2 separate regions of the Homo sapiens genome follow, and region 1 is linked to region 2. A link means that fine-mapping ties the variant in region 2 to the expression of a gene that starts in the linked region. Tissue or cell type: whole blood. Region 2 holds a variant in brackets; the other region holds the start of a gene. All regions are shown on one strand. Distances are between the middles of the regions.

Evidence for each region. PIP is the estimated chance that this variant, and not a neighbour inherited with it, causes the effect.
Region 1: GINS1 starts here. The variant in region 2 is fine-mapped to the expression of GINS1 in whole blood (INTERVAL, PIP 0.98).

Annotation. Positions count from the first base shown.
Region 1 is chr20:25,402,831-25,410,937 of GRCh38, reverse strand. GINS1 (GINS complex subunit 1) reads right to left here and starts at 3,265. Exons shown (of 7, transcript NM_021067.5): 1 at 3,043-3,265. The coding sequence starts at 3,117. It overlaps LOC105372581 (a long non-coding RNA gene), which reads left to right and starts at 2,643. Exons shown (of 3, transcript XR_937403.3): 1 at 2,643-2,867; 2 at 8,101-8,107. RefSeq lists enhancers at 2,119-2,876, 2,974-3,223.
Region 2 is chr20:25,600,566-25,608,672 of GRCh38, reverse strand. No RefSeq gene overlaps it. Among named protein-coding and RNA genes, the nearest start is that of NINL, 19 kb to the right of the region's middle. RefSeq lists an enhancer at 5,394-6,593. The variant TTG/G (reference allele first, on the strand shown) is at 4,896.

The DNA.
Region 1 (8,107 bases), 200 kb after region 2:
GGGTGTAATCACTTTTCTGTTTGCTGAACACAGCGCTTAACCATGAGTGATTCCAGAAGAAAAGCCTGTGTGTTGGGCCGGGCACGGTGGCTCACGCCTATAATCCCAGCACTTTGGGAGGCTGAGGTGGGTGGATCGCCTGAGGTCAGGAGTTCGAGACCAGCCCGGCCAAAATAGTGAAACCCCATCTCTACTAAAAATACATAAAATTATCTGGGCATGGTGGCAGGCGCCTGTAATCCCAGCTACTAGGGAAGCTGAGGCAGGAGAATTGCTTAACCCAGAAGGCGGAGGTTGCAGTGAGCCGAGATCACACCATTGCACTCCAGCCTGGGCCACAGGAGCGAAACTCCCATCTCAAAACAATAAAAAAAAGAGAAAAGCCTGTGTGGTCCTTGGGCCTCTCAGATCCACTGTCAGCCTTCCTCTGTGCCGCTGAGTCGGAGGCCAGCCTCTGCAGGCTGACTAAGTGTTCCAGGCTGCTGGATCACCTTGAGTATCAGGTGGGTTTGTCAGTGGAAGGCACTAGTGAGACAAAAGGTGCTCCACCAAATTAAGACCTACAAGACAGTGATTCTACAACTTTTTTTTTTTTTTGAGGCGGAGTCTCTCTCTGTCGCCCAGGCTGTAGTGCAGTGACCCGATCTTGGCTCACTGCAACCTCCGCCTCCCAGATTCAAGCCATTCTCCTGCCTCAGCCTTCCGAGTAGCTGGGACTACAGGCACATCCCACCACGCCTGGCTAATTTTTTGTATTTTTAGTAGATACGGGGTTTCACCATGTTAGCCAGGATGGTCTCAATCTCAGGACCCTGTAATCCGCCCGCCTCAGCCTCCCAAAGTGGGGGGATTACAGGCGTGAGCCACCACTCCTGGCCTGATTCTACAACTTCTAAGACCAGCCCCTAGCCCCACAAAGTGATAACCCAACACTTAACTTAAAATTTGAGTAAAACAGAGAGCTAAACTAAGTGTCAGAGTCAGGTCCAAAATCCAGCTTGGCCGCACCTGTTTGCACAGTCTCTCTGTTCTCTAGGCCTGTGTCCTGATATGTACAATGACCTCTAAAGTTCCTAGTTCTCAGGCCACATTTTAGCATTTACACACTTCTGCATTCAAGCATCTCTACTGAGCTGCAGACTGCTGCCTAACTTTTTAAATGAGGTAACTGCTCTGAAGTTGAAAAAACAATTGACTAGAAACTGGAAAACCTGTGTTCAAGTTGAAGCTCTACCTCCAATATGCTGTAAATTCAGACGAGTTCCTTAACTTGACCCATAATTTGTGTCAGCTCAGTTTCTTCATTTGTAAGACAATCTAATTGTCTGGCTAGGTGCTCTTTAGTGTTCAAAACAAAACTCATTACCTTTCCCAACACACTCTATCTCCTGAACTCTGATGTTGTTTACCCAGTTTCCTAAGGATCCTCCAAGATCCCAATTCCTCCCTCTTATTCATTATGGACCCCATCTCTGCCCCTGCTCTAATAGCTACAAGTCATGTTTGCTTCATGTCTCTAAAACCCAAACACTGATCTCAGTGCCACTGACCTGACACAGTTCAGACCACACACCTCTCACCTGCTCTATCAGCCACCCAGTAGCCATCTCCCTGTCCCATTCTTTCCTCTCTTCAATCCATTCCCCATATTGCTGCCGCAGTTACCTTCAAAACACAAAAATTACCCTATCACTTCCTTGTCTAAAATCCTCTACCAGCTCCCAGCATGCCTTATAAGTGAACAACAAATTCATGTAGGCTGTGAGCCACCTTCCTAGACTCCCCACAGGCCCTATTGGTCACCCTCTCCAGTGTGACCACGTGACTTTGTGCTGCAGCATCCTTTGGCTGGGATGCCTCGCTTCCTTCTCAGATCAGTAACCTCATCCTTGAGGATGGAAAGGCTCATATATCACCTCTTCTACCCCAGCTCATACTGGTGTTTCTCCTTCGTGCTCCTTGCTATACCTCCTTAGTATCACTTAGCGTGGTGAATTCTATTATCTGTTTTTGTGCCCATCTTCCAGCAGAATGTGTCCTGACATCCACATAATGCCTGCTCTATGACGTAAGTGAAATATACAATTTAGAGTGCAGGCTCTGGAGCCAGAGTGCCAGGGTTCAAATCCTAGCTTTCTTGCTGTGTCACCTTAGGCAATATACTTAAATCTCCCCAATCCTATGCATATATAGCTGAAAAAAGTAGAAAACAATAGTTTAAACATCAAAAAGTTATTTTTGTTTTGTTTGGGACAGGGTCTCCCTGTCACTCAGGCTGGAATGCAGTGGCAGGATCAAGCGATCCTCCCGCCTCAGCCTCCCAAAGTGCTGGGATTACAGGCAGGAGCCATGGTACCGGGCCCTCAAAGGGTTATTAGAAAGACAAAAGATAATGTACATGAAGTGCTTAGCACTCTCCCTGGGGTAGCAGTGATAGAAAAATACAAATAATCATAATATTAATAGTAACAGCAGCAGCAGGAGAAAAGTAATATTAATAGCTAACACTGACTCAGCCCTTACTGTATGTGAGGCATATGCAGAGACCCTTACACATGCCACTCATTTTGCGTCCACTACATCATGCGTTGGGTACTATTATTGTCACCATCCCCATTTTTGCGTATGAGAAAACTGAGAGCACAGAAAGCTTGAGTAACTGCCCCAAAGTCACACTACAGAACCAGAATCTCAGCCAGGTTCCAGAGGCCTAGCTTTTACTGACCACGATTAGATGCCTGAGTGAGCAAGAAATGCTAAATTATCAGGCAACCTGTAAATATTTTAAGGGACCGGAACAAATCTGTCCAAGGAAAACTGCTAAAATGCAAAATTTGCTCAGATGAGGAAATTCACCAAATCGCTGGGTAGCGTAAGCATGAATGCTTTCTCTTTCCTCCTGAATTTTGTTTTGCTGCTTCCCAAGTTTTCCGGAGCTCGGAGGGAACAAGGTGCGAAAGTGAACCCTGACGGGGAGCCGCCCCGCCCCAGAGCCCAGGGCCCAACGCCGGCATGCCCCGTCCAAGTCTACCCGCCCCTCACGTTGAAGGCAGGCAGTTGCCCTTCGGGCGCGCGATGCAGCTCGCGGATCAGTTCCATGGCTTTTTCGCAGAACATGGCGGACGCTTCCCACTCCCGCGGCCTTGCCAACCACCAGCTCTCACGCCAAAATGGTATCTGGGCTCTCGGCGCCTCACTCCTTTCGTTCTAGTCCTACAGCGCCAGGCTCTCGCCTCGGCCTCCGCTCCGCGCTTTGGCGCCGAACAAAGCTAGCCAATAGGAACGCGCCTACGGCGCCCGAAAAGGGACATCCACCGCTCAGCCGCATTCCAAGAGGGGCGGAGTGGGAGGGGTCTTTCCAAGGTGAGGTCCCCGCCCCGGAGATGGCAGAACCCCTCGGCTGAGCAGAGACGGCTTTTCCAGTTCTCAGGCAGTGGGCCGGGGGACTCTACGGGCAGCAGAGCTGGAAATAAATGCACGCCCCGCAGCTTCCTTGTCATTTTCCTTTTGATTCATTCATTCTCGTTTAGGTTCAAGAAAAGAGCACTTTGAGGTTAAGAGGAAAGGCCCAAAAACTTGGTGTGCATTGGTAGGACGCAAGGGTTTCAGTTTTGCAGTGCGGGTTTTCTGTTTGATATTAAAATGAAACTCTCTTTTATTGGGTACCTAGTGCTGGTAGGGACTGCAGTGTGTATTTCATTCCCACAATTATCTCTGAAGTGTTTTAAGACCCGGGATTAATAAGGAAACAGAAGTTAGGTAACTTGCCCAAGGTCACACAGCTCCAGAGTGATTAGACTGTTATTTAGGCTTTCCATTTCCAACACCACAGTACCACCCTTTGATTTTAAAATAGTCTTTTAAAAATATTTGTAATATCTGCCCTAGATTAATACGAATTCACTAGGAATTTTCTTGGCTAGATGGTTATGGAATATTTCTTAAGCATATGGAAGATGGGAATCACTGCTAAAGAATTGTTTTATTAGGCAATTTTTCAAAAAGCAATGTTAATTTCTAACAAGCAATCTTGGATTTTTTTTTTTTTGAGATGGAGTCTCGCTCTGTCGCCCAGGCTGGAGTGCAGTGGCGCGAACTCGGCTCACTGTAAGCTCCGCCTCCCGGGTTCACGCCATTCTCCTGCCTCAGCCTCCCGAGTAGCTGGGACTACAGGCGCCCGCCACCACGCCCAGCTAATTTTTTGAATTTTTTAAGTATAGACGGGGTTTCACCGTGTTAGCCAGGACGGTCTCAATTTCCTGACCTCGTGATCCGCCCACCTCGGCCTCCCAAAGTGCTGGGATTACAGGCATGAGCCACCGCAACCGGCGCAATCTTGGATTAATTCTAGCTAACCCTAGAAACTATGTTGATCTTTTGCAAATATACAGTAGATATGTCATCTAAGGAATGGGCATGGGAATGGCCTACTCAGGCTTATGTTGAATAATGACATTGCCTTTTTTTTTTGGAGACAGGGTCTTAACTCCCGTTACCCAGGTGGAGTGCAGTGGCGCCATCTCAGCTCACTGCAGCCTCCACTTCCCGGGCTGAGGTAATTTTCCCCCCTCAGCCCTCTGAGTAGCTGGGACTACAGGCTCAGGCCACCACACCTGGCTATTTTGTATTTTAAGTAGAGACAGGGTTTCACCATGTTGGCCAGTCTGGTCGACAACTCTTGAGCTCAAGGGATCCGTCCGCCTGGGCCTCCCAAAGTGCTGGAATTACAGCGTGAGCCACCGCACCCAGCAAACATTGCCTTTTTGAAACCGCCTTTGAAAAAATTATAATAGAGAAAATTATTACAGTGAAAGAGATCTGACCTAACTGGCTCCATCTTGCTTCTAACCGCCAAGCCATCCTTGTTCATTCCTGGGCTTAGGGCGAATTAACTTGGGGAGAAACTTAGTTTATAGTTTAATTTTGAAACAAATACTTAGCCCTTTACCAAAGCGAAACCCTTTTTGTCTGGGGACTAGATTGCCTTTGCAGGAGTAACAGAGTAGCCACAAGACTAGAAATTTACGAGTCTCGCAGCGGGAGGCTACAAGATTCTAAAACCTCCCCAAGTGCTCCTAGGGATAGCAGCACTATTATAAAACCTAAGACCAGTGCTTGAGATATTTTGTAGACCCTGCACTTGATGGGATCAGCTGGCACCACCCAGATCGATAAACTGGCTCATCTGGTCTTGTGGTCCCCACCCAAGAACTGACTCAGCCCAAGAGGACAGCTTTGACTCTCTATGATTTTATCTCTCATCCAACCAATCAGCACCCCTCACTTTGTGACCCCCTACCCACTAAATTATCCTTTAAAATCCCTATCTTGGAGTTTTCTAGGAGACTGATTTGAGCGATAATAAAACTCCAGTCTCCTGTACAGCTGGGTCTGCGTGAATTAAACTCTTTCTCAGCCAGGCCCAGTGGCTCACGCCTGTAATCCCAGCACACTGGGAGACTGAGGCGGGTGGATCACCTGAGGTCAGGAGTTCGAGACCAGTCTGGCCAACATGGTGAAACCCCATCTATACTAAAAATGCAAAAATTAGCCTGTCCGGGCATGGTGGCTCACACCTGTAATCCCAGCACTTTGGGAGGCCAAGGTGGATGACCTGAGGTCAGAAGTTCAAAACCAGCCTGGCCAACACAGCGAAACCCCATCTCTACTAAAAATACAAAAAAATTAGCTGAACATGGTGGCACACGCCTGTAATCCCAGCTACTCAGGAGGCTGAGGAAGGAGAATTGCTTGAACCCAGGAGGTGGAGGTTGCAGTGGGCCGAGATCTCACCACTGCACTCCAGCCTGGGTGACAGAGTGAGACTCTGTCTCAAAAAAAAAAAAAAAAAAATTAGCTGGGCCTGGTGGCACATGCCTGTAATCCCAGCTACTTGGGAGGCTGAGGCAGGAGAATCACTTGAACACTGGAGGCGGAGGTTGCAATGAGCTGAGATTGTGCCATTGAGCTCCAGCCTGAGCGACAGAGCAAGACTCTGTCTCAAAAAACAAACAAACAAACAAACAAACAAAAAACCAAAAAACTCTTTCTCTATTGCAACTCCCCTGTCTTGATAAATCAGCTCTGTCTGGGCAGTGGACAAGGAGAATCCCTTGGGCAATTATATTTTCATCTCTACAGTAAGGAATAGTTTATCTAGGTGTTTTTCCCAAATACACAACTCTAGACTGGACTATGCTGCAGGACTGAATCAAAGACCAGCATGCACTACCCTCCTCAGCCATAGGCCTTTTTAATTTCAGCCCAGAGGCAAAGTTCATTAATGACCCCAAGACTCACTTCCTTAACAGTAGAATGAGAACAGTGGAACCACCTCTAAGGAGTTAAGATGATTCAGTCATACCTTCTGCAAATATTTATGAAATGCCTAGTGTTGAAGTTAAAACCAAACTCTAAAATATTTAAAGAGATTTATTCTGAGCCAATGAGTGACCATGGCCCAGGAACAGCCTCAAGAGGTCCTGAGAAAGCGTGCCTGAGGCAGTGCAGTTACAGGTTACAGGTTGGTTTTATGTATTTTAGGGAGACAGGAATTATAGGTAAAATCATAAATCAACACATGGAAGGTGTACTTTTGTTCAGCCTAAAAAGGTGGGATATCTTGAAGCAGGGAGCTTACAGATTTTCTGATTAGCAATTGGTTGAGTCAAGTTTTGTCTAAAGACTGTCAATAGAAGGAAATTATTGAGTTAAGGGGGAGGTTGTGGAGACCAAGTTTCTTGTTATGTGGATGAAGCCTCATAGGCAGCAGCCTTCTGAAAGAATTGATGGTAAATGTCTCTTTTTGGATCTTAAAAGGTGTGTTAAACTCTTGTTTAACCTCTCCTAGATTCAGGAAAGACCTGGCTGCATTAACGGAGATTCTTAACAGATGCAAATTCCCCACACAAAAGATGGCTTTCCAGGGCCATTTCAAAATATTTCAAAGAAATATATTTTGGGGTAAAACATCTTGATTTCCTTCAGAGTCTGCTATCTGTCATGTGATGCTACATCAGTCAGGTTGGAGTTTGGACCTTATTGCCACAAAGAGTGTGTTTGTGAGTCTTAGGATCTTTATTTTAATGTTAATGCTGGCCAGTTGCACCTATACTCCAAAAGGGAGGGGGTACAACAAGGTGCATCCCATCTTGCTTCTTGTCATAGCCGATAATTCCATTTTTGTTTTTTTTCAGGTTTCCCTGGGGTCCCCTTGGCCCAGAAGGGGTCCATCCAGTCAGCAGGGGATGGAGGGTTTGGGATTTTATTTTTGGTTTACACTAGTATTAGCCTGGCATTGACCTAGATACTGAAAATAAAGCAGTAAACAAAGTCCTTTCTACAGAGTCTACATTCCAGTGTGGGAAAACGCAATACACAGATACACTGATAAGAAATATATTGGTGAAAAAGCACTAAGAATAACCCAAAGAAGATGAATAGAGTGAAGGTGAAAGAGTCAGGGTTTTGAGTTCAAGTGTTCAGAGAAGGCACAGACCTGAACAGGGAGAAAATAACCCAAGTGGTTATGGGCCTTAGGGAAGGCAGGAAATTCCAGGCAGAGGAATCAAGCTGCAAAGGCCCCAGGAAGGTCGGCTGAGGATGAGCAAAGAGGCAGTGATGCTGGAGCAGGTTGATGATAGGAGAGGCCAGCAGTCAGGTCAGATGTTGGGAGCTGAAAAGGCCAAAGGGATTGTGACCAACTCAGCATTCCACTGGAGGCTATATTATCAAACAGCAAACTGTTTATCAAGAATGCAGGATGTGAGCAAACTCACACTGTGCCTGCCACCAAAAGGTTGGCTGAGGGCCGCGCTCCCTGGTGCCGGGCTCCTTGAAGTTATCTACGGAGAAATCTAGTGCCTATTGTTCAAAGGATGCAGTCTCGCAAGCCTGCTGTGAACCAAACAGCTGACTGACAATTACCCGACAATCACCCCCCCCATTTATCACTATCTGTTTTGCCTAATAAATATGGAGGGCTGTGTAAAGCTCAGGGCCCTTGTCCACTAGAGGCAAGGTGCCCCTTGACCCCTTCTTTCAAATATACTCTTTTGTCTCTTGTCTTTTATTCTCACATTCACCGCCCCCTTTGTTCAGTCCCCCT
Region 2 (8,107 bases):
CTCCCAAAATGCTGGGATTACAGGTGTGAGCCACTGTGCCTGGCCAATACTCAGATTTTAAAAGTCATGGAAGATAGCCAGGCATGATGGCTCACACCTGTCATCTCAGCACTTTGGGAAGCTGAGACGGGAGGATCGCTTAAACCCAAAAAGTAAAAAAAAGTAAAATTTTTTAAAAAGTCACAAAAGATAAAATGGTTTTAACCACCAGACAATTAAAGAAATAATACTCAAAATAGTTCCTGTTTAAAATTACATTTTTTAATGCTTAAAGGAATTATATTGACCATTTTATTGAAGCTTAGAGGTTAAGCAAATCAGCCAATTTGGACTCTCAGATATGTGTCCTCAGCCCACTTGGCATCTCTGCGTAGATGTCTAATAGACATTACCAAAATAACTCCTTTCCAACCAAACTCCTGGATTTCTCTCAAAAATCTGCTCTTCCTGCTGTCTTCCACATCTCAGTAACAGCAATGTCACTTTTTTTTCAGGATATGGCTATATCTTGCACTTAAGAATATTCCTGGCCCGTGGTAGGCACTCAGTGAATATCTGTTGAATGAAGCAGTTATTGGCTATTTCTATAAAAATTAATTAAAATTAAACAAATTTTAACAACAAGGGGCAACTCATCAACTCGTTTTTGTTAAAATTTTACTTTTCCTTCCTTTCACATGCGGATTTGTCCTTTGCACCATGATAAAGCAGAATGGGAATTCTGTGTTGAGGACTGCAGTGATGATGCTAGTTCACTTCCTGTAATGTGCCTGTTTCCAAGCACCAGCTAATAACCTGTACCACACTGTTGAGCTGATACAGAAATGACAGTTGACGGAATGGTCACAAATCTCCATTTATTTGACATATGTATTTAATGAAGAAAATCTTTCTTGAGTACATTTACAAACTCCAGCAGTGACTGTCATTATGATGGAAAATATTCACGTTCTGTTCCTTTTTTTTTTTTTTTTTTTCTTGAGACAAGGTCTCACTTTGTCACCCTGGGGTGCAGTGGTACAACATGGCTCACTGCCGCCTCACCTCCCAGGCTCAAGCAATCCTTCCACTGCAGCTTTCCGAGTAGCTGGGACCATAGGTGAGCGCCATTACGCCCGGCTAATTTTTGTATTTTTTGTAGAGACGAGGTTTTGCCATGTTGACCAGGCTGGTCTCAAACTCCTGAGCTCAAGGGATCTGCCCACCTTGGTCTCCCAAAAGTGCTGGGATTACAGGCATGAGCCACCATGCCCAGCCAGAAAATATTCTTAATACAGTTTGAAATATGCCTTTACTTGGAAGGGCTTTTTTTTTAAAAAGGATGCTACAGGCTATTTACTGAATACAGTGCTGAAAGCATCTATCACACAACGGAAAAAATGGCAAAAGTAGCTGTAGTCAGTAGAAGAGGGACTAGAAGACAGCAATAGAAAATCAATTACTTATTGGGCCAGGCATGATGGCTCATGCCTGTAATCCCAGCACTTTGGAAGGCTGTGATGGGAGGATCACTTGAGGACAGGAGTTTGAGACCAGCCTGGTCAACATAGCGAGACCCCCATCTCTTTAAAAAAAAAAAAAGAAAGAAAAAATCAATTACTTATTGTTTCGGTAATCTATTGCTGAAAAAGAATACACACACCCCAAAAGTTAGTGTATTAAAACAACAAAATCACTTATTGTGGCATCACCTGGAGTACTGGCTTGTCTGAACTATGCAAAATGGCCTCACTCACATGGCTGGCAGTTCATTCCGGCTGTTGACATGGGTCAACGTGGATTATTACACGGGATGGCTGGAACAACCGGACCGCTCTCCATGTGGTCCAAGAGCCTCTCCATGGGACTAGCTTAGGTTTCCTCTCAACATGGTGGCTGGGCTCCAATAAGGAGCATTCCAGTTGGGCAACCCCCAGCGTATAAATACTTTGAAGCCTCAGTTTGCATCATGCTTTCTAATATCTTTTAGCAAGAGCTACTCAAATAAACTATTACACTTGTGAATGAGGTAGGTACTGCTTTGGTTACATAATTGGGCAGGGAATAGTCCCAAGAGAGACAAGACGTGAGGTAAAGATAAGAAGGGAAATGTTCCCTCAAAGTGAACAAGCAAGAGGCATTCTGGTATATCCTGAGATATCCTTTATTATTTATGTTTCCACTGATATTCATGATAATGAAATAAACCACTGAGCTCATGTTCTTGTCTAGAAGAACAGCTGCTACATTTGATGTACTCAACCACTAGCTCTAGCTCTACAGTTCAGTTACTTTTTTTTTTTTTTTTTTTGAGACAGAATCTCACCCTATCACCCAGGGTGGAGTGCAGTGCTGTGAACATGGGTCCAGGCAGCCTAGACCTCCCTGGCTCAAGTGTCCTCCCACCTCAACCTCCCAAGAAGCTGGCACTGCAGGTGTGCACCACTGCTTCTGGCTGATTTGTGTATTTTTTGTAGAGACAGGGCTTTGGAATGTTGCCCAGGCTAATCTCAAACTCCTGGCTTCAAATGATCCTCCTGCCTCAGCCTCCCAAAGTTCTGGGATTACAGGTGAGAGTGTGAGCCACTGAACCTGGCCTCATTACTTCCTTTTTTCTTTTTATTTTTTTGAGACAGAGTTTCACTCTGTCGCCAGGCTGGAGTGCAATTGGCTCACTACAACCTCTGCTTCCTGGGTTCAAGCGATTCTCCTGCCTCAGCCTCCTGAGTAGCTGGGACTACAGGTGCGCACCGCCACGCCCAGCTAATTTTTGTATTTTTAGTAGAGATGGGCTTTCATCATGTTGGCCAGGATGGTCTTAATCTCTTGACCTCATGATCCGCCCGCCTCAGCCTCCCAAAGTGCTGGGATTACAGGCGTGAGCCACCGTGCCCAGCCCTCATTACTTCATTTTATACCAGTGATTTTTATTTGAGTCGCTGCTAAATCGAGAAATCTAGGAAAAGTTATGGACCTTCTTCCGCCCAAAATTAATCTATTCACATAACCAAACATTTACATATTATTTTAGGGGTCCACCAAATTCCCCTTAACCCCCCACAAGTCCATCCATAGACACCTCTATGAAATACAACCCTAGTTTATTCCTTGGTGTCTACCACCTTTTTATACTGGCCAAGTTCTTAATAATTAGGGATGTCTGTGTCATCTTTGTACGTCTCCCAAGCCTGAAATCTGTGCTTAAAAATGTAATAAATAATAAAATAAACTTTGAAAACAACACAGACAGTGCTTTACTGAGTGTCCAACAGATGCCACTAAAATAAGATATTGATGCTGCTTCTCCGGAAACAGCTGTTTCGTTTCTGGGAATTCCTGGGCAAACCCCTCCCTCTGGGAAGGATGAACACAGCTCAGATGCTCAGTACATACTGAGGTCAGCATCCGTCCACGGGTTTTTTTGTGTGGGTAGGTTTTTTGTTTGTTCATTTTTTTGAGACAGAGTGTCGCTCTGTCACCCAGTCTGGAGTGCAATGGTGTGATCTCTGCTCATTGCAACCTCCGCCTCCTGGGTTCCAGTGATTCTCCTGCCTCAGCCTCCTGAGTAGAGTAGCTGGTATTATAGGCGCCTGCCACCACGCCCAGCTAATTTTGTATTTTTAGCAGAGATGGGGTTTCACCATGTTTGCCAGGCTGGTCTCGAACTCCTGACCTCAAGTGATCTGCCCTCCTCGGCTTCCCAAAGTGCTGGGATTACAGGCGTGAGCCACTGCACCTGGCTGAGTTTTTTTGACTAAAAATGTTAGTGTCCACAGTGTTTTTAACAGTTTTCTAAAACCTTCACTGCAATGAGGAAAGCGAAGCCCAGACTGCTGAAACAACTGGCACACGTTCCTGCCATGGTGGATCAGCGCTGCCGGCCCTGCCGGCCCTGCTCCCTCCTGGTCTGCCAAATGCTATGCTTGCCCCTGCCCATGGGAACTCCCCAGGCAGCATTAGATACTGTGGCAGGTATTTAAATTTTGAGGGTCACATTTGGAACACCAGATATAAAAACTAGAGAACAATGTACTAGATACACGAGTGTAACTAGTGTGCTGAACAAGGATGCCATGAGGCGCAGTGGCTCACTCCTGTAATCCCAGCACTTTGGGAGGCACTTTGGCAGGTGCATCACCTGGCATCAGGAATTCAAGACAAGCTTGGCCAACATGGTGAAACCTCATCTCTACTAAAAATACAAAATTATAGGTGTGGTGGCACATGCCTATAATCCTAGCTATGCGAGAGGCTGGGGCAGGAGAATCATTTGAACCTGGGAGGCGGAGGTTGTAGTGAGCTGAGAACTTGCCACTGCACTCCAGCCTGGGCGACAGAGCAAGACTCTGTCTCTAAATAAATAAATAAACCACGGAATTTAGTGGAAATGAACTTTTCGGTCACCTGCTATCCCTTTCACATCTACTCAGAGTGGGAAGTTTTCTCCTGGCAGTGGACTGAAGGGAGATGTGGACGCCAGCCTTTTCTGCTCAGTCCTAGGAAATTGTCCTGTGATGACTTGATGTCACAAACACCATCCTGGTGCAGACCCATGGAGGGTTTAGCCCAGTGGAGGCGGCCACACTTCGGGCTTTGCTCTAAGGAGAACTAATTGCACCTGCCTGCCCCCTCAAGGCCTGCCTGACACAGCCACCCTGTGGGGGTGTGGGATGGTTGGCGTCTTTCTTCCACACTCATCTCCTCTTTGCAAGTTGGGGGTGAGGTGGGACGCTGGGCAGGGAAGTAAGTTCTCGCTTGGGACTTCCTCACCAAAGCCTGGTTTTGTCTTGAGTTAGCTCCATAGCCTCCAGCCCCAACCTGCCTCCCATTGGGCACTTTCAGGGGCTCTTGTTTTCTGTTTTTTTCTTTGCCCGGCTGACACCTTGATTTCCCTTTTTTTTTTTTTTTTTTTTTTT[TTG/G]GAGATGGGGTCTCACTATGTTGCCCAAGCTGGTCTTGAGCTCCTGGCCTCAAGTGATCCTCCTGTATTGGCCTCCCAAGGAGCTAGAAGTACATGCGTGAGCTATTAGGCTTGGCTTCAGGGGCTCTTTAAAGACCTCTGGTAAACCCCCTCCAGCTGCAGCTTAGCTTGTGCTTCTCCAGTGGGCTGTCTTCTGGCCCTAGGTCTCAGGCAGGCCCCTCCACCACTGGTTCTCACCACTGGACTCCCCTTTGTCTTCTGGAAGGGACCCCAGGTCAGCCTCTCTCCCATGTCCTTGCCCCTTATCAGTGAGAATGGAGTTACATCCCACCCACATCCTTCACGCCCCCTACCACCCCTGCCATAGGCCCCTTGAACTTTCATGCTTTCTGCAGAAAAGGCATGCCAACCTGTCTCTGGATTTCACCACTGGGTCGTCCCATTCTCTGGGTTTGGGTGAAGGAAGGAGTTCCTCTCTCACCCCCTGAGAGAACAGCAGCCACAGGCTGCAGTAGCTCTCTCTCCAAAGAAATCCTGTAATTCCCTTCCTCTTCCATCTGCAGTTTCTCCACTGCAATATTCTTGAAATAGGTAAGGGACTTCAAAAGTCAGGAAATGAGTTGTTGACTGATTGATTTCAAAACTCCTCCAACAAGTGTCACACTAACTGGTGCCTGATGTCTACTGGCTTAGGTCAAAGTTTCCATTCTGAGGCTGTGCCTGTGAGATCTGCCAGAGCACGTGTGTCCTGTGTGATCCGCCAGAGCACGTGTGTCCTGTGATCCGCCAGAGCACGTGTGTCCTGTGAGATCCGCCAGAGCACGTGTGTCCTGTGAGATCCGCCAGAGCACGTGTGTCCTGTGAGATCCGCCAGAGCACGTGTGTCCTGTGATCCGCCAGAGCACGTGTGTCCTGTGAGATCCGCCAGAGCACGTGTGTCCTGTGATCCGCCAGAGCACGTGTGTCCTGTGATCCGCCAGAGCACGTGTGTCCTGTGAGATCCGCCAGAGCACGTGTGTCCTGTGAGATCCGCCAGAGCACGTGTGTCCTGTGTGATCCGCCAGAGCACGTGTGTCCTGTGAGATCCGCCAGAGCACGTGTGTCCTGTGAGATCCGCCAGAGCACGTGTGTCCTGTGATCCGCCAGAGCACGTGTGTCCTGTGATCCGCCAGAGCACGTGTGTCCTGTGAGATCCGCCAGAGCACGTGTGTCCTGTGATCCGCCAGAGCACGTGTGTCCTGTGAGATCCGCCAGAGCACGTGTGTCCTGTGAGATCCGCCAGAGCACGTGTGTCCTGTGATCCGCCAGAGCACGTGTGGCCTGTGATCCGCCAGAGCACGTGTGGCCTGTGATCCGCCTGAGCACGTGTGCCTGAATGGCAATTCCTTGCCATTCCTGAATCAACCCTTTGTTTTGGAGGAGAAAAAGTTCCAATTTTGATACCCTGGTACATAAACAAGAAGGAATACGGTACAATATAGATGAACACCTCCTGAAACAAAGTCTCATAAGGGAGCTACTGTGCAGTGGCTTGACTGGGGATATGAATCTAAGCTGAGGATTGAAGGAAATGAAACATTTGATTGGGGCAAAGAAGGGAGAGAATTCATTCAGTTCAACACAAGCATAGAGGGCTCCTCCTGAGTGCCAGGAGCTGAGTACCAAGCAACCAGGAGTTTACAATCTCCACAGAGAGGGATCTGAGTAGGGGGGTGAGAAGTGAAATTTGGATGGGTAGGATGGACTGTCAAAAGTGGGCTGTGGACATAGGCCTGGAGTCAGAGAGCACTGTCCTCTGCATTTTAGGAAGGTGGGGAAGCCTGTGTGCATGTGTCTGTGGGTCTGTGTGGAACAGGATGTGCAGTGTGGAGGTGTGTGAATAGTGAAGGCAAAGGAGGGTTTGTGGAGAGGTGTGTGTGAGATAGTTGTGTGCATGTATGTAGGTGTGTGGAGAGGTGTGAGATGGTTGTGTGTGTATGTAGGTGTGTGGAGAGGTGTGTGTGAGATGGTTGTGTGCGTATATGTAGGTGCGTGGAGAGGTTTGTGTGAGATGGTTGTGTGTGTGTATGTAGGTGTGTGGAGAGGTGTGTGTGAGATGGCTGTGTGCATGTATGTACGTTCGTGGAGAGGTGTGTGTGAGATGGTTGTGTATGTGTGTGGAGAGGTGTGTGTAGGGGGTGTGCATGTCACACTGGGTGTGTCTAGAAGGGTTGTGTGTGTGTGCTTAGTGGGTGTAGTAGTGAGGTTGTGGTGAATGTGAGTTATACAGTTGTGTTTGTGTACATTGTGTGTATGACAGTGGTATGTGTAGCAGTGTTGTGTTAGGGGTGTGTGTGTAGTGGTTACTGAATAAGAACTATGTGAAGGACAGATGCTTTCTTTATTGAATTAAAACCTGCCTGGGTGAGAGAGAGACAGAGCAGCAGAGAGACAGAGGCAGAGACAGACAGGGAGACAGAGGCAGAGACAGAGAGACGGGGAAAGACAGAGACAGTGGCAGAGAGACAGACAGAGGCAGAGTATCATGAAGAGATGAGACAGAGACAGTGGCAGAGAGGCAGACAGAGTCAGAGACAGAGAAGCAGAGAGAGATGAAGAGAGACACGAAGAGAGACACAGAGAGGCCTGGAATGTCCTGTGTGATGCCGGCCAGGGGTGCCTGTTGTCTCTCCTGCAGTCAATTCCTCTAAAGTCCCAGCCTCCTTCTTAGAGAACCTATCCTTGGCCTCTTCTCAGACTGAACTTCTCCAGTGAGTGGGCAGCCGCCTCCAACTGAGCCCAACTGTGCAAGGCAGGTTCTTCGGGGAATTCAGGACTCACAGGCTCTGGTTTGGGAGTGCCATTCACGAATGTCCACAGGGTCCAGGCCAGCCTGTAGGCGAGCCACACAGGCTGGGGGAGGGCACAGAAGTGGTGTGGGCTGTGGCAGACCCACGAGGGGATGACCCAGAGGACGCCTGGGCACCAGGCCAAGCCAATTGGGTCTGCAGGCAATACCGCGGGGCTCCTGGTCTGTGCGCTCAGCACATTCCTCTTCTGTTGCGTGAACTCTTGAAAGGGCAAGTGAGGTAAAGCCATGGTCACAGAGAAAGGGAGTCTGTGGAGACAGAAGAGTAAGTGGGTCTGCAAGGCAAGGGAGAGGGAGGGACCTGTGGGTCAGGATAGGTACAGTGGACTGAACTGTGTCCCTCCAAAACTCGTGTGCTGAAG